Regions from separate parts of the Homo sapiens genome. Here region 1 is linked to region 2. A link means that fine-mapping ties the variant in region 2 to the expression of a gene that starts in the linked region. Tissue or cell type: skeletal muscle. Region 2 holds a variant in brackets; the other region holds the start of a gene. All regions are shown on one strand. Distances are between the middles of the regions.

What was found. PIP is the estimated chance that this variant, and not a neighbour inherited with it, causes the effect.
Region 1: HK2-DT starts here. The variant in region 2 is fine-mapped to the expression of HK2-DT in skeletal muscle (GTEx, PIP 0.95).

Annotation. Positions count from the first base shown.
Region 1 is chr2:74,828,319-74,839,316 of GRCh38, reverse strand. It overlaps HK2-DT (HK2 divergent transcript), which reads left to right and starts at 5,330. Exons shown (of 1, transcript NR_185897.1): 1 at 5,330-6,662. It overlaps HK2 (hexokinase 2), which reads right to left and starts at 5,190. Exons shown (of 18, transcript NM_000189.5): 1 at 4,674-5,190. The coding sequence starts at 4,736. RefSeq lists silencers at 1,953-2,110, 4,049-4,298, 5,219-5,448, 5,629-5,698 and enhancers at 1,921-2,436, 3,749-3,818, 3,596-4,472.
Region 2 is chr2:75,782,497-75,793,494 of GRCh38, reverse strand. No RefSeq gene overlaps it. Among named protein-coding and RNA genes, the nearest start is that of GCFC2, 77 kb to the right of the region's middle. The variant G/A (reference allele first, on the strand shown) is at 5,952.

The sequences.
Region 1 (10,998 bases), 950 kb after region 2:
TGTCCAAAATGTGCCAAGGTTCCTTGAGGCTCTAACTCCAGCCCCACCCATGGTAATTCACTCTTTTGACCTAGCAGCCATATCTCTCTAGACAACTGAAAAGTATCTGGGTTTCTGTCTCCCATATCACACTCAGAGGGCCTTGCACTCACTGTAGGTTCTTAAAAAAACATTAAAATTCTTGGCTTTCTTGACTCTTGGGGTCTCTGTTCAATCTTTTCGCTTCCAAGATATTCCTCTCAAGCCCAGCATTGAAGGTCACCCCTTGCTCATACAACAAGGAATCTACATGAGCTATGTCTATTACAGGATTCCAGTGCAAATGTCACCAGTCTATGCGTATTAAAACAATTTGGTCAATGGTCAGAGAAAGGAGTATATACTTCATTTTATCTCTATGGTTAACCCTGATTCTCCATTCTTAAATGACAAAATCCTGCATCTTGTATACTAACTTATCTCAATCAATAGAAAGAATCAGCCAGGCGCGGTGGCTCACTCCTGTAATCCCACCACTTTGGGAGGCGGAGTCAGGCAGATCACGAGGTCAGGAGATTGAGACCATCCTGGATAACACGGTGAAACCTCGTCTCTACTAAAAATACAAAAAAATACCCGGGCATGGTGGCAGGCGCCTGTAGTCCCAGCTACTCGGGAGGCTGAGGCAGGAGAATGGCGTGAACCCGGGAGGTGGAGTTTGCAGTGAGCTGAGATTGCGCCACTGCACTCCAGCCTGGGCGACAGAGCGAGACTCCGTCTCAAAAAAAAAAAAAAAAAAATAGAAAGAATCTTCCATCTCTCCATAGGCAGGACACACAGTCTTGATTGCTGAAGGACAGGAAACTCTCCTCCCTTTCTCTCTCCCTCCTCAGGACCGGCCTCAGGTCATGCTTTGGCCTCAGGTCATGCTTTGGATGAAGAGATAACTGCGAACTACCCCTCCAAGTGTCCACCCATATACCATCCCTTTAGCCTAAGACTAGCTGGCCCTGCCCAGCTCCTCCACTTCCTGCAGCCCTGGTTTAGCTTCTTTCTCCAGAAAGGTCTCCTCCTTTACTCTTGTACTCACTGAGCACCTCACCAGTGGCCAGGAACTGCAGCGACAAACCTAACAGCCAAGATTCTCCCTGCCCTGAGGAAGGAACCCAAACTGAAAACCATCAACTCTAACAGATGGTGGAATGAAACAAATGTCATGCAAGGTTCAAACACACTAATGTTGGCACACAGGAGGGGGAGAAGGAAGCAGAAAGAAAATTAAGACAGTAAACTGCATTTGAGCTGGAAGGGGTTAAGTGGAAAGAAGCCAAGCAGAGTTCAGGGCCACAAAAATGGCAAGGGCAGGCCTCGTGCGGTGGCTCACGCCTGTAATCCCAACACTACGGGAGGCTGAGGCAGGTGGATCACAAGGTAAGGAGATCGAGACCATCCTGGCCAACATGGTGAAACCCTGTCTCTACTAAAAATACAAAAAATAGCTGGGCATGGTGGCGCACGCCTGTAATCCCAACTACTCAGGAGGCTGAGGCAGGAGAATCGCTTGAACCTGGGAGGCAGAGGTTGCACTAAGCAGAGATAGCGCCACTGCACTCCAGCCTGGTGACAGAGTGAAACTGTGTCTCAAAAAAAAAAAAAAAAAAAAAAGACAAGGGCAAAAGGACCTAGTGTGAACAGGCAGGACAGAGGAATGAAAGGATGGAGAGGAAGATGAGGCTAAGCTGGGGGGTAGAAGCGGGAGGCAATTAAGAGCTGTAGAGAGCTCCTGAAATGATCCAGTCTGGCTCCAGAAAGAGTTTTAGGGACACCCTTAGCAGGCCTCCAAAGTAACCAAGAGACCAGTTGACAGAGTTAGAGAGTTGATGAAAATGAATCCAGGACTCTCAGCTGGAGTAGCCAGAGGGTACTGGTGCCACTGATCAAACCAACAGAAGAGCTAGTTCCATCTGTGGTCATGATGGGTGGGGGTGCTACCAGCAGCCAGGAGTGGGCAGAGGCCCGGGCCAGGAGCCCGCTCACATTCCCCAGAGACAGGCAAGTATGTGCTCAAGAGCATGGTGCTCTAAAGCCAAATGCATGGCTTCGATTCCCAGCTCGTACAGAAAAGCTGGAGACCTTGGGCAAGTTACCCCTGGGCCTCAGTTAAACAGGGATGCTAATAACAATCAGTCTTCACCTCATGGGGCTGATTTGAATGTTAATAAGCTGACATACCTAAGAGCTTAGAACAGTGCCAGGTACACAGTAGGTGCTCTGCAGTCGCTCCTGAGTTCCAATTGGCAAAAGTGAGGAAATAACCCTGATTCTCATCTCTAATGCCCCAAAACACTGGGCTTGTCCATCAGGAGACGACAAGTGACCTCGTTGGGCAGGTGAACCCAAGCCTTCCACGTCCTCAGACTACAACCCAGAATATGTAAGATTATCTTATCACAAGGGGATTTCAGAAGGGTCCAAATCAAAAGGTCTTTTCAAAAGACTCTAAAGTTATACTAAATTTTCATTCTTCTCTCTTAATTCTTCTTTCCAATGGCAGCTCAGAAAGATGGTTCCAAGATACTCTGAGTCTCTGCTTTCTATGTAACTGCCACTGGAATCAAACAGCTTCGCTCACCTAAGCTGGGAGTCAAATCCCAGGTTCTGACAATTACTGAGTTAAAGGCCTGATTCAATTCTGCCCCTATTGGTAGTTTAGAGGAAATACACCCAAGGGTCTTCAGGGACACTTCTCAAACTGACAGGTGGCTGCAAGGGTAGAGAAAACCTACAGGAATGACAGTTGCACACTGCAGCGCTTAATAATCGCAACTCCATAAAGTGGACAAGCCTACTGTTATTATTGCATTTCACAAAGAGAAACGGGCTGTCCAAAGAGGCTCAGGGTGCTATGGTTAATAAACCACAAGACAGAGATTACAACTCATTTCCAGATACCCTGGTTAATTCCCGTTCCACTCTGGGGGAAGAGAGATGACCCCCATTCCAAGATTGAGAGTGGTATAACTCCAACGGGGTTCCAACCCTGGTGCCCTCCTCTGGATTGAGGAAGAGTAAATTTATGCAAGGATTCAAATGTCCTGGGGTAATACCCAAAGGAGAACTCCCTGAGATTAATGACGCTCCACTGTGTATTTTAGGACTTGCCAAGAGATGATAGCCTTCCCCAAGAGTTCTTAGAAGTTGAGAAGTTACCAAGATCCTGCCAGCTCAAATCAAAGGCACGTTTTTAAGTAAACTGAATCAAGGTGCAGAGCCACATCCCAGGAATTAGAGAATAACAGCCATTTACAAACAGTAAAACCCAAGTAAATCAACCGCCTCTGCTCGCTCCTCCAGACTTGAGGCTGGGTAACTTCTGCTTTTCTTGGAGGTTCACGCGCCATCACTACATTAATATGCCTCCTATGCCCTCGGGACCGCCAGAATGGGAATATGAGCAGGTTGTCGCACAGAACGGTAATGGCAAGACATTTTCCCAAAAATGTGTTCCCATCAGATATTGAAATTCCAAGTATGTAACTGAGCAACGCTCCGTTGCCTCACAGCTCTTAAAACAACCTCCCTCCAGCTAATCCCCTCCCAACTTGTCCCCTACCTCAAATCGTAGCCCAGGCCCGGGCCAGGAGCCAATCCCCTAATCCCGGGCATTTCAGAAACTCAATTCTGAGCGCGCCCCTGGCCCTGCCCGTCCCCGGCCCCGGCCCCATCCCCACCCCCATACCCCGAGGCGGGGAATGAGAGCTTCCCGGCTTGGCCTGAGGCTCTTTCTTATGTAAATGACCCGGCCGCGGTGAGCGCTCAGCCATAGGGAGCTGCGGAGCCAGGTGGGAACAGACAGGTCGAGGCTTAAGGAAAAAAAAGCTCGTTTTCGGAAGGACATAAATCTCAAGAATCTCAAGTAATCCAGGAACGCGGCGCGTTGGCCTCTCCGAGTAACTTTTAGGGCAAACCAGAAAGTAACAACCAAAGTCCTCCCCTTACTCAGAGGCAGATCCTGAGGACACGAGGCTGGGCGGTCCCGAGGCTGATTTGGAGGGGCGGGGGTTAATGGGGGACGCCCCTCGCCGAGCCTCAGTTCCGGGCGCCACAGTTCCGGGGAGGGGGCGCGGCGGGCGGAGTTCCTCTGCCCCTTTCCTACTCCTTCCCGGGTCAGCTTCTCCTCGAGCCCACCCCCGCAGGGCCGCGGGGAAGGAGAAGGGAACCGCTCGTCTCCTACACGCGGTCCGCGAGCGCGGACGGCCCCCGGCGGCCCCACGCGGCAGCGGAGCAGCCTCCCGCAGCCACGATTCTCTCCACGTGCTCTCGCCGGAACTCGCGCTGCAGAAGGGGGCTCCCTCCCACGTGGGCGCAGCAATCCCTGACTACCTGCGGGGTGACCCGCCCCTCCAGTAACAGGGAAAAAGGGACTGGGGGAGAGAGCGTGAGCGCGTGCCGGAGCTCAGGGAGGGAGGGCGCCCGGCGGAGCGCGACCTCGGCTCCCCGCCCGCGCGCACTCGCCGGCTGTGCTTAGCGGACGTGGCTCCTGGCGCCCAGGAGTGTCCCGGCTGCCCAAACTTTTTCCGCTCCCAGGCCCGGAGTAGGGAGGAAGCGGGTCCCCGCAGGGTCGAGGAAGAGACTGATGGAGGCCAGACCACTTTGCCAGAGCCCAGCCTGCCGCCCCGCCCGCGCTGACTTACCTTCTGCACTTGGTCATGGTTGAGCTCCGTGAAGAAGTAGGCAAGCAGATGCGAGGCAATCATCCTGCCGCGGCCCGACGGCGCAGAGTTGGGAAACCGAGGCGGAGACGCGAGAGGGGAGGCGGGCGGCGCGGTCCGACTGCTTTGTGCTGGGGCTCGGCTGCCGGGCCGGGAGCTGGGAGTCCGGACGGCGCACAAAGAAGGCTACCGGCGAGGGTGCGCCCGGCTGGCGGAGGGCGCGGGTCTCCGGAGACGTGATTTTGGCGTCACAACTGCTAGAAGGCGCCTCAGTTCTCTCCTGGCGACGTGTCCGGTTGTCCCACGTCAAGGCGCTAACTTCGGCCACAGGATCACTGAGGCTCAACTTGAGAAGAATCTCAGCCCGGCTCCACTCGGGCAGTGGGACCTCTCCGATTCACAGGCGCGTGGCTCGGGCCCGCGGATTTTCTTAGCTGGGTGACACGATGTTGCCAGCGGCAGCCCGGGACTCCTGCGCCGGAGTTTCATGCAACAATGTGGCTTATTGAGGGGCTGCCGGCCCGCGGGCCTCCGGATCAGTGACGTGCGCACGCCCATTGGCTGCGCGGGGAGGGTGTGTGCGCCCACGGACCGCCCGCCGCCGTGGCGCAGCCAATCATCGCTCACGGCTCGCGGGCGCGGCCGCTCAGACACCGGAGCCGGCAGCCTGGGGAGGCGCGCCGGGGGCGGGGGGCGGGGGAGGGGCGGGGCGCCTGAGATGGGACGTGTGGTCCGTGGCTAAAGGCTGGGACGGAAAGGCGCATGAGCCACCGCCGCGTCAGGCTCGGCTATGGGTGGGGGGAGCGTGATCGCGGACCCGGGGTGTGGGGCGACTGGAAAAACGGGCCTCTGGACCAGCACACGCCCTGTGCGGAGAGACACTGTCTGGCATCTCGGGATCATGTGAGGGGCTCCCACTGCCCAGTCACACGTCTAAAGCATCCTAGTTCTTACCTATTGTAGCACGGCCGGAAAGTGAGCCGCCTTAGCTGCTGATTGTACTAGAGCAGGCAATACAAGAGTCGGCCCATCCTCAAAACCACTGATAGGATGTGAGTTTCACTAACCCCGTTTTACAGATGAGGAAATTGAGGCAAGGCCAGGGCTCACACCTGTAATCCCAGCACTTTGGGAGTCCAAGGTTGGAGGGTTGCTTGAGACCAGGAGTTCATGACCAGCCTGGGCGACATAGTGAGACCCCCATCTTCCCAAATAAAAATAAATAAATCAGCCGGACATGGTGGCATGTGCCTGTAGTCCCTGCTGCTCAGAAGGCTAAGGTGGAAGGATAGCTTGAGCCCAGGAGTTCGAGGCTGCAGTGAGCTATGATCATACCACTGTACTCCAGCCTAGGTGACAGAGGGAGACCCTGTCTCAAAAAGAAAAGAGACTTACACGAGGTCACATAGCTAATAAGTGGCAGATAGGGAAGAGAACCCTTGTCCCTCTACTTTAAGGCCCTATTCGCTTGCCCCATTATCCCATGCTGCCTCTCTAAGAGCCAGAGAAGTAGGAGGTAGAAAAAGAGCATCTCTGCAGCTCTGGGACTGATGATGTGAATGAACTGGGTAGATGGTAAGTGTGTAACTGGGTGATCTTGGACATGGGATGGGGTGGGTGAGGAGGCTTACCAATGCTGAGAGGAGTGGAAGCTCCAACCCCAGCTAATGCTAGACACCAGACTCCAAATTTAAACACACAGTGGAAACTGGCAAGAATGAAATACTGACTTCAATACAGATTTCAAGAGACATGACATTAGCACTGGTGGAGAATGGCAAGCCTAAGGTTGGAAAAGGTTCAGGGAAGGAAGATGAAGGTCTGCCATGTTCTACTGAGGAGGAGTTTTTCAAACAGTGGGGTGCTGTCTGCAATGTGTACAGCCTTAAAATTATTATATAAGTAATCAATACTCATTGTTGAAAAATAATATATGGATAAACAGGAAAAATAAACAAAAATCATAATCCATCTAGCCTCTCAGCAAAACTTCCTTTTTTTTTTTTTTAAAGCAGGGACTCGATATGTTGCCCAGGCTGGTCTTGAACTCCTGGGCTCAAGCAGTCCTCCCACTTCAGCGTCCCAAATAGCTGGGATTACAGATGTGCTCAGCAAAACTTCTTGAGAACTATGTACCCTTCTAAATGCACGTCCTCAACCCTCCTTCCCTATACTCCACACAGAATTGAGCTCAAACTGCTTTTGTCATAGTCATCATAATGACCTACATGTTGCCAAATCTTGCATTCTCTTCTCTTCCCTGCCCTTGTCTTACTCCTTCTCTCAGGGATGTTGAGGACAGTTAATCACATCCTCCATCTGGACACACCTTCCTCTCTCAGTAAGAGCACCAGTGCTCCACTCTGAGGGTTTCTGGCTAACCTCACTCCCCAGGCTCCTGAGTCCCTGTTTGCTCTATTGGTAAATGCTGGGGTATTCGGGGCTGCCCTCCACCCTCTTCTCTGAACTAGTTACAGTTTCAAACTCCCTGAGGAGAAACTAACTTCCTAGCCCCATGACTGTTATATCATATGCATGCTGATGACTCACCATAGTAAATCTACAGCGAGGTCCTCTCCTGGAGTTGCAGGCTTATTTCTCCAGCTTGCCATTTGTCATCTCCACTGAAGTGACTAGCATATCACACTTAACATGTCCAAAGCTGAACTCAACTTTTTTTCCCAAATCTTTTTCTTTCCCAGTTGTCTCAGCAAATGGCATCGCCATCCACCCTAACTCGTCTTCGATTCCTTCTTGCCACTCACCCTCACAGCCAGTCAATCCATCAGCAAGCAGTTAATTCCACCTATAAAACAGACCGTGCATCTGACCACTTATCTCCATGCCCTTAGACACCTCCTGAGATCTTCCCACAGAATACTGCTTGGCATTCACACTAGCATGCTTTCCTCAAAAATACAAACTCTTTCTCACCCAAGGGTCTTTGCTCTTCCTTTTCCTTCTATCTAGAATATTCTTCTCCAGGCCTGTCTCCAACTCATTCTTCCTCCTCATTGACGTTCCACTCAGATACCTCCTCATGATGCAGGGCAGGCAGGCCCCAAAATTTGGACTTAGCCTGGGAAGATTTTTGGCTTCACCCAGTAAAGAATTCAAGGGATGCCGGGCGCGGTGGCTCACACCTGTAATCCCAGCACTTTGGGAGGCTGAGGTGGACGGATCACGAGGTCAGGAGATCGAGACCATCCTAGCTAACACGGTGAAACCCCATCTCTACTAAAAAAAAAAAAAATACAAAAAATTAGGCGTGGTGGCGGGCTCCTGTAGTCCCAGCTACTCGGGAGGCTGAGGCAGGAGAATGGCGTGAACCCGGGAGGCGGAGCTTGCAGTGAGCCGAGATCGCGCCACTGCACTCCAGCCTGGGCAACAGAAAGAGACTCCATTTCAAAAAAAAAAAAAAATTCAAGGGCAAGCAGGTGGCATTAGACAGCAGCTTATATTGAAGTGGCAGTGTACATCAGGAGCAGAGGCACTGGTCTTTGCAGAGCAGGGCTACCCCATAAGGCCGTGTGCCCAGAGTAGCAGCTCAGAGGCAGCTCTGCACTCATATTTCTACCCACTTTTAGTTAACATGCAAATTAAGGGGCAGGTTATACAGAAATTTCTAGAAAAAGGTTGGTAACGGGTTGTTGAGTCATTGCCATGGAAAGGGGCAGTGACTTCTAGGTGTTAAATCTGGAACTCTAATCTAGAGTCTGGTCCCGAGTCTTAGCCCCCACCTCCAGAGTCAAGTCCCCACCTTCTACCTCATCAGGCTTTCCTTGACCAGTTTATCTCAAATAGTTCCCCAAGTCACTATCACTTGGCCCTAGTTGATTTCCTATTTATTTTCGCTATGTTCTTCCTCTCCTCAATAGATGATAAGCTAAAAGACAGCAGGGTCTGTGTCTGTCATTCCTTCAAGTTTGCAGTGCCTAAAATGGTGCCTGACGCATGGCAGACATGCAATAAACATTTATTGAATGAATTCATAGAAGAATCTTAGAGATGACTACTGTTCACATGTTGTGTAACAATACACACACACATAGAGTTTATAGTTTTATATATTATTTCCCAAATCTTTTCCCATTTCTCTGTCTACCCTAGATCATATGCCCAGTTATCTCTCACCTGACTGGAACAGCCTCATAACTGGGCTTCCCTCTTCAGATATAGACACCATAAATATATAGACTTAGATATTTAACAAAGATTCTTTGTTTGTTTGTTGTTTGTTTTTTGTTTTTTTTAGATAGGGTCTTGCTCTATCGCCCAGGCTGGGGTGCAGTGGCACAATCTCGGCTCACTGCCACCTCCGCCTCCTGGGTTCAAGCGATTCTCCTGCCTCAGCCTCCCAAATAGCTGAAATTATAGGCACTCACCACCATGTCCAGCTAATTTTTATATTTTTAGTAGAGACAGGGTTTTGACATGTTGGCCAGGCTGGTCTCAAACTCCTAACCTCAAGTGATCGCCCATCTCAGCTTCCCAAAGTGCTGGGATTATAGACATGAGGCACCACACCTGGCCCCAAGATTCTCAAAGCAGGAAATTATACAATCGCGTTTGCTTTTTTAGGGCCATAACTGCCCTCCATGTGGATGGGGAGGGAAAGAGGTCAGAGACCAAAGGCAGAAAGAGGCAGAAGCTATAAGGTAAGACTAGGACCTAAGCCAAGATGAGAGTGGGGCAGGGAGGAAGGTTATGGGTTTAGGTATTGTGAAGTCAGAGGTGGAACTGATGGATTTGGCTGGGGTGGGTGAAGGAAAATGAAGAGGAGGATGCCTGCTGCCTAGAATCGGATGGAAATTCAATAGCCTGGTGCTACAAAATGTATTGTCTCCAGGCAGGTAGAACCAAAGCCAGTGGGGTTGGGTCAGCTATGATACTTTCTTCACACACTAGTTTTAATGCCTCTTCTCCACTCCCCTCTGTGGTCCCATTTCATGTGAACCGGATAATAATCATAAGGAACTTTAAGTACATGTTATCTCTTACAAAGTTCCCAGTAATCCTGGGAGGTGGTTGGAATCAGTATTGTTATAGGCCAGGCACAGTGGCTCATGCCTGTAATCCCAGCACTTTGAGAGGCCGAGGTGGGCGGATCATGAGATCAGGAGATCGAGACCATCCTGGCTAACACGGTGAAACCCCATCTCTACTAAAAATACAGAAAAAATAGCCGGGTATGGTGGTGGGCGCCTGTAGTCACAGCTACTCAGGAGGCTGAGGCCGGAGAATGGCGTGAACCCGGGAGGCGGAGCTTGCAGTGAGCAGAGATCATGCCACTGCACTTCAGCCTAGGGGACAGAGCGAGACAGGTCTCAAAAAAAAAAAATTGTTATTAACCCCAATTGATACACAACAAACGGAGGGGAGGCTACCCACATAAGGCTGACTTGTTTCTGTGGTTCTTCTGCCTCTGAACTCCATTCCTCAAGTTTATTATTTATTGAATCTCAGATCTCTCTTATACATACGTGCACATGTACACACATGCACACACAGAGATGTTGAAAATTGAAGAGACAGATGGTCATGTAATTTATATTCCACAGCCCTAGGAAGGAAATCAATCAGCAAAGATTAGTAAACCCTTACAGTGTTCAGGACACTCTCCTCAAAGTGAAATACAAAAAGAAACACAAAATGTGGGTCTTGCACCTGAGGGATTAACTGTTTAGTCAGAGATATAAACGAACACATGAAACAAATATTACAGAATAGAAAAGCCTATCATTAAGAGCCAAATATGTATCTGTCTTTATACATGGTGGAGTTCTGAAGGAGGAAGAGACAGAGCCACAGGCTAGAGTTGGCCAAGGGTGGTCTGACAGATGCAAATGCAGCTTCCTGATCTTAACACAAGGCTACTGCTGGTGCTGGTTCCACATATGACTGACCTTAGCCTAGCCATCAGGCTCCAGGGAGCTATATCCTGGGAAGAGACCACTTTGCCAAATGACCTCCAACTGCCAAATATTCCTTTTTCTAATTAGGATTTATCAAGTTTGCAGCATATCATAAGCGATGGTATTATGTAGAAAATTTTAAGACTGAGGGTGGACCTGCCCTGCATGTAAATACTCATGAGTCTATGCATCCTATTACATTTAATACTGTGCCCTATGTTTTATAGTTCAATTATAATGTATGTATTTGAGGGATTGGGAAAGAAAGAAAATGGAAAGCAGTTAGAAAAGTGGAAGCCACACAGATACACAACACCCCACTTTATCTGTCACAGTTGCAAACAAAACCCATTCAAGCTAATTTATACAGAAAATGAGTTTATTGAAGAATA
Region 2 (10,998 bases):
ATTCTAATAGACAGCCACATTTTAAAGATAATAGTATTTATGCAATATGCACAACTCAGTAGAACCAAATGGAGATGTCACGAGTGCTGATGATCTAGATAGAGACTTATTCCTACATAAGTATCATTGTGCATGATTTAAACTCAAGGAAAATTATAAATGACCATCTATTCTGAATCCTCATGAGCTTAGCATCTACTTTGCTTATTTGTATTTTGGTGCCACTGTTTTCCCCACTCCCTCCAGCTGCATGTGAGGAAAATGTTTCATCTGCAAAGTAGGTTTCTCCGCTACCAGAGCCCTCTCCAGCATGGGTGGAGATGCCTTGAATCTGCATTCTAGCAGGAAACTCCCAATCATTATAGATTTCTTGGAGTAGCAGCCTTCCCCTAACCTATCCTTTCATTGCCTGGCCCTTATTATGGCAGATGGTATTTTACAAAGAGGGCTTCAGCAACATCTCCCATCCCACATGTTCTTCTGCCCCTCCTCCATTAAGAGATGAAGTCTATTTCAGGGCTGGGAGCGGTGGCTCACGCCTGTAATCCTAGCACTTTGGGAGGCCCAGGCAGGCCGATCACGAGGTCAGGAGATCGAGACCATCCTGGCTAACAAGGTGAAACCCTGTCTCTACTGAAAATACAAAAAATTAGCTGGGTGTGGAGGCAGGCACCTGTAATCCCAGCTACTCGGGAGGCTGAGGCAGGAAAATGACGTGAACCCAGGAGGTGGAGCTTGCAGTGAGCCGAGATCACGCCACAGCACTCCAGCCTGGGCGACAGAGCAAGATTCCATCTCAAAAAAAAAAAAAAAAAAAAAAAAAAAAAGAGATGAAGTGTCTATTTCACAACCTCCTTGAATCTGGGTGGACTTGGAACTGCTTAGAGCAATAGAATGCAGTGGAGGTTACCCAGAGGGACTTCTGAGGCGCGATCATAAGAGGCCTAGGAGCATCTGTTCTGGCCTCTTGGGATGCTCCCTCTGGGAACCCAGCTGTCATAGTGAGAGAAGCCCAACGCACACGGAGAAGCCATGGGCAGTGTTTCAGTCAATAGCCTCACTAAGCACTGAGCTAAGTCCTCAGCCAACAGCCAACATCAACCACCAGCCACGTGAGTGAGCCATCACAGATGTCCAGCACAGACAAGCCTTCAGGACACTGCAGCCTCAGGCAACACCTGATGGCACCCACATGAGAGGCCCTAAGTGAGAACCATCCAGCTGAACCTAGTCAAGCAACAGAAAGTACTGTAATAAATGATAAAAATTGTTTAAGCCACTAAGTTTTGGAGTGGTTTGTTGCACAGAAATAAGTCACTGCGAAAGTGCCTATGACTAGACTTTTACCCCAGGTATTCATTTACACCCTTTAGTTCCCTGCTGGATTTACAGGAGGTCTCTGAACCTGCTTATTTAAGGGCCAATTTGGTGATTCCTGACTAGTCCCATCTGCGTCCCTGTCCCATAGTCCTCCTTCTTCCACAGCTGACGCACTGGTCACCCACCATAGTTCAACTTACCCCATATTCTGGAACCAAGTTATCTTTCTGGACCTATAAAATCCAAACTCCTTGTCTTGATAGCTCTCTAGCAACAAATCTATCAGTGGTTCTCAACCTTGACTGCACATTGGAATTACTTGGGAAGTATTTTTTAAAAAATACTTGTTTACGGCCCAGTGCGGTGGCTCACGCCTGTAATCCCAGCACTTTGGGAGGCTGAGGCAGATGGATTACGAGGTCAGGAGTTTGAGACCAGCCTGGCCAATATGGTGAAATCCTGTCTCTACCAAAAATACAAAAATTAGCTGGGTGTGGTGGCACGCAGCTGTAGTCCCAGCTGCTTGTGAGGCTGAGGCAGGAGAATCACTTGAACCCAGGAGGTGGAAGTTGCAGTGAGCCGAGATCCTGCTACTGCACTCCAGCCTGGGCAAAAGAGCAAGACTACATCTCAAATTAAAACAAACAAACAAACAAACAAACAAACAAAAAACCATAGTTACTGGTTCCCACATGGTTACGGGTTCCCACCCCCAGAGATTCTCATCTAATTGGTCTGGAAAATGGCTTCTCTGTGCTGCCACTACTGCCATTTTGGTCCAGATAATTTTTTGTTGTGAGGGGCTGTCCACTGTATTGCAAGATGCTTGGCCATATCCTGGCCTGTACCCACTAGAAGTCAGTAGCACCCTTACACTTGTGACAGTCAAAATTGTCCACAGATGTCACCTAATGTCCCCTAGGGAGCAAAATCATCCCCAGTTGAAAACCGCTAGTCTAGATTTTAGCCTGGGCATCAGGATATCTCAAAATTCCCCAAGTAATTCTAAAGTTCAGGCAAGGTTAAGAACTGCTGACCTAAAACAGCATTGCTTTTCAAATTTAAGCATGTATATGAATTACCTGGGGACCTTGTTAAGATGCAAATTCTGGTTCAGTAGGTTTGGGGCAGGCCCAAGATTCTGCACCTTTAACAAGCCTCCATGTGCTGCTGTCATTGTTCTCAGTCCACTTTGAGTAGCAAGGAAGTCAGACACTGCAATTTGCCTGTGGGGTGAATTTGCATTTAGCACCCTCACCTGGGCACCCCAAGGCCTTACCCTAATTGCCCCCAGGGAAAATTGGTTATTGGTGATTGTCAAAACAGACTATGTTCTCCACAGTTGGCAAAGATGTCTGAAAACATGGTAGCAGCAAAATTACTTCAAGTAAATTATTCACTTCTTAGGGATCAGTGTGCTGCAAACTACATATTGCATTTCACCAGTGTAGAAGCTGCCAGCAGATTAGGGGGAAACTTCTCTACAGTTTGCTGCTTGCTGTTGCCAAGGTAGGAAGCCAAACAATGCCTTGAGCTGCCAGCCTTTTTCAATAATACACTTCACATTGCCAGTCGCGAGAAAGGCTGTGTGGGACCCAGAGACTTTCCTGCTGCTCCAGCCCCTCTCCAGCATTTTAAGTCCACAGCTTTAACATATGTCATAGGGGTTAAACAAATGAGTCAAGAGAGCAGATTTTAATTTGAAGAGGGATTTCAGGAAGTCAATTCTTGCTCCTACAGGACAGAGGTCAAGCTACAATCGAGTCAAGACAGACTAGCCTTCTGAAATTTACACAGAACTGTGGAAAGGTCACATCTCCCTCCACTCGTGACTCAGGAACACAGAGGGTTTGTATGACTGTTCAGCTTTGGCTTTTGTCCAAGAGAAATGCTCTCTTTTCACTCCAGAGGTATTTATTTGCGCTAGAATCACTTCAGAAGTATGTCCTCTCTCACCTGTAAATTTAGCCAGGAACTTGAAGATGCTAGTGGCTCAGAAGTCTTCCAGGCATATTATTTAAATCCTACTGATTCCAAAGAAGAAAAAGGTGTCTGGTTGTTTGGGGATCTACAATGGACTACAAAATGTATCTATAGACTATCTGGTTGGCTCAAAATGTGAAACACAGTATTTCTCTACTTAAGTCTTGTCACCTTAAAAAAGAAAGCAAACAAAAAACACCAGGAGGGGTGAGTAAATCTTGGCTGTCCAGAGAAACAATTCTAATTTATTTCAGAGAGTGCTTTGAGTATAGAAACTGTAAGAGAGATTTCTGCTCTTCTACCTCATTTCTGTAAGAAACAATTCTAAACAAACTTTAAATACAATGTTACTACTTAATTCTAAATAGATGTTCTGCCCTGAAACCCACCTCTACTTCCTTACTACGGAGAAAGGGATTGACAATGACAGAGAAAGCTCAAGTTCCCGTTTACCCCTTTTTCTGAAAACTTCATATGCAATCAGACTTAAATGGCTCTGATGGCCTCTCCTCTGGACTATACCCTGGATCCTCTCACTAGTTCTCAACTGGGGGTGATAAAGTCTCCAGGGACATTTCCAATGTCTGCAGACGTTATTGGTTGTCACAACTCAGGGATTACTGCTGGTGTCTTTAGAAGCCAGAGATGCTGCTAGATGTCCTACGAGAAACACAAAACAATTCCCCACAACAAAGAATTATCTGGTCCAAAATTTCAATCATGTTTACTGTCAGAAACCTTGTCTTAGATTTTTAGAAGTTAAAAAAACATCCTCAACCAAAGCCTATTGAAGACTGCAGGCCTCATCTTGCCACCTACAATTCTAACCTGACATAGAAGACAGAAAGAGAGGAAGAGAAAGAAGAAGGACCCCTACAAGTAATTTCTTTACTCCTCTCCAAGGACAGAGATCACATTCTTGTTCCTTTCTGTTATGCCAGAGGGTAACAGTGACTGAGTCATAGTGGTTACTTAACAAATATTTGTTGAAGGAATGGATAAATCCCACCCCTCAGTTAAATGATGTCCTCATATGAGAAAGAAAAGGAAACATATCTTAGCTGTAAGATGAGCTCTCCTGTGGCCAGCAGCCTGGGGCTTGCTCAGACAGTATAGTACAGCCTGGTGCCTCTCAACTTTAATGTACATATGAATCACCTGGCAGTCTTATTAAAAATGTAGATTCTGAATCGCAAGGTCCAGGGTGAGGCCTGAGAGGCTGCATTTCCTACAGATGTCCAAATGAAGCTGATACAGTCCAGGTCACACTGCAGGGCAGCAAGAATAGACGATGTCTAGAGTTGAAGCCAGGACATTTACCAGCTTTCTCAGCCTCCATGTCCTGTTCTAGAAAACAGGGAGGATGATAAAATCTCTGCTATGCCCACATCCAAAAAATTGACAATTATGTCCTGATAGGATCTAAAAGCTTTACAAGGGATTTCAGAAATCATGTAAGCTAAACTCTCCCATTTTTAAGTGAGGAAACAGAGGCCCAGAGACATCTTAGCATGTCCAAAGTCACTCTTGTGATTGGCTATAGAGCCTGAACCAGATCCCTCACACTGATCCAGCCATCGTTCCTCCCTGTGTGTCCAAGGTCACTCTGGTGATTAGCTATAGAGCCTGAACCAGATCCCTCACACTGATCCAGCCATCTTTCCTCCCTGTGTGTCCAAGGTCACTCTGGTGATTGGCTATAGAGCCTGAACCAGATCCCTCACACTGATCCACCCATCGTTCCTCCCTGTGTGTTCTGACTGCACACGCTGCCTGGTGCCTAGTACTGCAGGTCTGGCTGTTGTTTACTTGCCTGTGCTTTTTCCCTGATGGCGTTGCATAATGCCTTGGCTAAAAATGAACACCTACCACTCCTCCAAGTGTACCTGCCACTTCATCCATATCCGATTGCCACATCCAGTGAGACTGGCCACCTGCTGCCATGTTCCTGAAATCAGTTCTTACATTCTGCTGCTCAGTTTTGTGCATCACAATGTCCTTATACTGGATTTTTCTCCCCTGATGTATAAGAGGTGCACAAATCAAATTAACCACAGGTGAAAAAGAGCAGTTAGCCCAGTGCCAAACAACAGAGCAGACACCGAGCTGGGATTAAAGCCCCACATTTTGATTCCTGGTGCATACTCCAAACCTCTTCAGAGAGAACACAGCCCTTCACTGTTTACCAAACTCTCATTAGTCCAACAGCCTGTTGTCTTAATGCTAAAAACCTGCTAATCAATAGCAATTTAGGTGAAGGGAAATTATGTTTAAAGAGAAACATTCTAACACTTATAGGTTCATTTTCAGAATCTTACCCTCCAATTGTCTCAGAATAATCTTGGGCCTGCTTTTCTTCCTTTCCTGCAAGTAGATAACACTGTTCTGAGAACTCAAGTTGTATTTCTGTCCTGTGTCTTTCCTCGCCCCTCATTTGAAGCATTCCTCCGAGTCTCGTGTATTTTAAGTGCCATCTAGTGGTAGATCTTCAGATGTTAATAATATAATGAAATTTAACTTAAGGATATTTGGGGAAATAGATGGTCTGCAGATGATGGAATAATCTCTCTACCTGAGAAATCACTATATCTGCTATATGTGGTTACCAATATTCAGAGTATTTAAGTACTTTTTTCAAATAATCCTGC[G/A]TATTAATTTAAGCATTCTTTTGAAAATCTTGTAACTTCTCAATCAAAAAGCATTTTCAAGATCTTTACAATTAGAGATTTTCAATTACATATTAGAAATAAATTAAAGCATTCTGCATAATTTTTTAATTTGAAAGACAGGTTTTTAAAACTTAAAGCTGCTTAACTCCTCTGCGTATCTTCCATCAGCGTTTTCTATTTGCTTTGATAACTCTACCCACTTCTTCCCTTACAGAGAAGAAGAACAACTCAGGATTTCCCTCTACAGAGGGACAAAGAGTCTTTCCTTGCATCCTCTTCCTTGGAGAGGAGGGATATTGGAAAGACTGATCCTCCCTTCCCTTCCTCCACCCACTTAGGCCCTTCAGCATCTACTCCTTTTTAGGGATTGAATCTGTCTGAATAGTCATATGATTTTGGTTCCTCTGTCCATTATCTGTGCAATGACAGACAAGCCAGGATGAGAAAAAATTAAGAAATGTTTCTACAGACTTCTCACCAAATCCTAACAGGTTTGGAGTTATTATTTGAATTTCCAGCTCCAGGCCTGATGCTGCTTCTTCAAGATCAAAGGGATTATGGCAGAAACACACTTAGAAAAGTAGACTCCAAGTACTTAGAGAAAATATGTACAAATGAAATACAGCCAGGAAAATATTAAAACAGATGTTCTTCTACAGCACAAATGGCAAGTCCAAAAGAAATTTTCATTATAAATGATTAAATATACTCGAACAGCAGCTACTATTAAATGCTAGCTTACAATTCATTTTGTTTTTTATAGCATTCATTTTTCTTAATATAAATTTTTATAAATATAAATGAAAAATATAGACAAAAGTAAAAAGTAGAATATAAGTTATCCTCATACATCCTGTAGACACAAGCCCTATTAAAATCCTTTGGGTATTTTTCTGGTACATGTCTAGGTATGAAGATTGGGATCATATATATGTAAGGTTTTGTCGTGATTTTTTTTCACCTAATAATATATTTTGAGCATCTTCCCAGGTCATTAAATTTACAGTGAATATAGTTGATGACATGGGAAGATGCACCAAGTTTAATTTAACCAACACTTATTCATAGACATCAGATTGTTTCTAAATTCTTACTCATATCTAAATAATTCTGAGATGAACTTCCTTGTATACAAATAAGGCAAATGTAAATATTTATTACAAATTGATTTCTAGAACTTGAACTACTGGGTCAAAGGATGTGAATGTGTTGAAGTTTTGTGATACACAACAACAAAGTGGTGACTAGAATTGTAGCCATTAATTAACACTCTTAAAAGTACCTCATAAAGGTACAACCGTGACATTTTCTTTAAAGAGGGAGGCTGCTGCCTACCCACCCTCTCCTCTTTAGGATGTCTCCTTGAACATACGATAGGCCTGATTTAAAGGCTCAGCCTTTTATTAATAATTTTACAGTGCAAATATGTGGGCTTTTTAACATGTAAAACTGGCTCCATAATTGGTTCAGGGGTCTCCCACAAGGGATACATAAGGCAATCACAAGTGCATCCTCTGGTCTCTCAAGAGAAGTGTTAGTTGTTCTATCTTCCACCTTCCTACATAAGTTCGTATCAAATTCTGTCCAGACTTTGTAATCACTTTCGTGCTACCCTACATGCATGTAATTCTGATAAATACCCAATATTAAAATTATGTTCTCTCTCCCTTTCATATGGGTACAAAAGGGCCTTTTGTTCCTGAGACTGTTTTACTTCTGTAACAACCTGGTGGAAATAACTATGTCCCACAAATTGGTGTTTCCATGGACATGGCTGTCTGGTAACAATAATGGGAAAACAATGTAATTCTAGAACATTCTAGCTGAATTCACTCAATAGAGGGAAATACACTTTTTTTTTCTTTTTTTTTTTTTTGACAGAGTCTCGTTCTGTCGCCCAGGCTGGAGAGTGCAGTGGCGCAATCTCAGCTCACTGCAACCTCCGCCTCCCAGGTTCAAGTGATTCTCCTGACTCAGCCTCCTGAGTAGCTGGGACTACTATTATTGACAAATTTTCTAAACTCCCATCAGGTTTCTCAGGTCTTACATTGTTATTTTCTGGATAACAATTAGAATTTTTATTGTTTTTAATAAGAAAATAAAATATTTTAAAACATGTACCAAAAATAATTCCCAAATTGACAAGTTCCACTTTAAATCTAAGAAAAAGAAAAACTCTCATATCTGAAGTTTGCTTTTTCATTCCTGTTGAAGTTCCCTTCAATAACTAGGGGAGGCTCAATAACTTTGCCCAATTATTAAACCAGAATAGTAATCAGGAGCCATGGCTGAAACTCCCAATTCTTTACCCCAAAACTGTCAGAGGGGATTTTCAACTCTGAACTCAAACAAAACAACAGGATTGGTGAAGGATGACTAAATCCACCTCAAATATGAAACTGCCCATATTTGACCATTTTTGGTTTAGAAAAAAAGTGGTATTCATATGGTACAAGCTAATAGAACCATTTATCATTATCAAATCATAGGGACATAGACAACTAGAAGCAAATATCCAGAGATACCACTACTCACTGGTACTGGACACATCCCAGGCAGACCAAGAGGCAGCCACATGACCGTTTATCCTCCACCTGCCATCCTCATTTCCTGTAGCTATTACCAAACGACTAGGACAGGACCCAAAAAAATCATCAGCGGTGAGAGTAGTCAATCTAGAGAGGAGAGTGTCAGGTTTTTCTTCTTATCCCATAGAATGGAATGAGGAGGATTCCCACCTGCCCCAAACTACCAAGGAAGGCACCGAGATACTCACAGAGATGTAGAGCCAACAGGAAGGGCAGACAGACATGTCATTATAAAATAGCTTTTGGATGGTAACAGCCCTTTCCCAAAGCAGACCTCCTTCTTGCCTGGAGACTAGACTGCCTTTGTAGGACTAATATTAGCCACAAAATTAGAAATGATGGTTTAGCAGTCATGCAGCTGGAGGCTGCAAGATTCTGACCCTCCCTAAACTGCTCCTAAGATCAGTGCTTGAGATACTTTGCATCCCCTGCACTTGATGGATCAGCTGGCACCACCCAGATCAATAAACTGGCTCATCTGATCTTGTGGCCCCCACCCAGGAACTGACTCAGCGCAAGAAGACAGCCTCAATTCCCTATGATTTCATCTCTGCCCAATCAGCACTCGTGGCTCACTGGCTTCCCTTCATCGACCAAATTATCCTTAAAAACTCTGCTTCCTGAATGCTCGAGAGACTGTTGTGAATAATAATAAAACTCCGGTCTCCCACAAAAAAATAAAATAAAATAAAGTAGCTTTTGATTCAGACTTGCTCATAAGCCCTCCTGTGCCTATTTGAGCTAGAGGAGATGGGAGTTGGTGAGATGTGGCAGGACAAAATGGGAATGACAAGAGGAAGGCTTATAGTCCCACCTTTTGTCATAGCAAAGCTGTGTCAGTCCCATTGGATCAGGTGGGTATATATTCAAGGTAGCTGTGCCTGAACTGCCTTAGTATTAGACAAGTAGAATCAAGAAACAAGAGACTACAGGGTGACGGCTGAGAGGCAGGGACAGGGAAATGGGGTAGAAGAGGAGAAGCCAGAGGTCTGTAGTGGCAACTATGCAGTTTGGAGGCCTTCCTGCAAGGGCCTTGAAAGAACCATGCTTAAGTCCCTAGAGAGAAGAACACCTACATATTTACACAGAGAAGGGACTAACTGCCCATTGCTGGCTGGGGAAGCTGCAGTGTATAAGAAAGGATTACAATGGTGAATTAGTAAGTATAAAGTTCTCTGCCCCTTTCTCTGTTACCTCTGCATTGCCCCAACCTATAGTAGCTGGTAGAAGTGAAGGAGCTTCCCCCATTACAAATCCACCCAGCCATAGATAAGGCATGTGACAGGAATCAGGGAGAAGACGAGATTAGAGTTGATTAGAGATTGAGTTTTAATATCTACTCATGCCCAAGAGCTAGTTAAGAAGAAAGAAAGGGAGATGCAACCGAGCATGATTAAAAGCAATGGATGGAAAAAATTTTTTCATTATTGTACATTGACAAGTTCAGACTGTTCAATAGGCCAGTTACACTGGTATCTAGACTGATGAACTAATTGAAATTTCTGGGTCATCTCTGTGGCTTCATTTGCTAAAAGTTCTGCTCTTACAGTGTAATTGAATTCAAAGACAAGAAATCACCAGTGTCAATTGTAAAGAAGAAAGATGAACTTTTATTTGGAAAGAAACTGCATCAAATTAAATTAAATACAGTTTGTTGTTTTGTTTCAACTCACTTCTGTCACATATAATATCTAAGGAGTAGACACAACCCAGTCCAAATAGTATTATCAACAGCACCAAAAAAAAAAAATGCATTTGGTTTATTTCATTGATGGGGTGTGGAGAGAAGAATAAAGCCAGTGGTTCTTGTGTTCAAAAAATATATAGTTAGTTAAGGCCGGGCGCGGTGGCTCATGCCTGTAATCCCAGCACTTTGGGAGGCCAAGGCGGATGGATCACGAGGTCAGGAGATCAAGACCATCCTGGCTAACACAGTGAAACCCCGTCTCTCCTAAAAATACAAAAAATTAGCCGGGCGTGGTGGCAGGCGCCTGTAGTCCCAGCTACTTGGGAGGCTGAGGCAGGAGAATGGCGTGAACCCGGGAGGCGGAGCTTTCAGTGAGCCAAGATAGCGCCACTATAGCTTGGCCTGGGTGAAAGAGCAAGACTTCATCTCAAAAAAAAAATATATATATATACATATATATATATAGTTAGTTAGTTAAATGAATTTTTCACTTTTTAGTTGTCTCAAAAATTCTATGATTCACAGATCACAATGATACATTTATTCTAACATGGCTACTGATATCATTTGGCTGTGTCCCCACCCAAATCTCTTCTTGACTTGTAGTTCCCATAATCCCCACATGTTGTGGGAGGGACCCAGTGGGAGGTAATTGAATAATGGGGGCAGTTACCCCCATGCTGCTATTCTCATGATAGTGAATTCTCACGAGATCTGTTGGTTTTATAAGGGGTTTTCCCCCTTTTGCTCA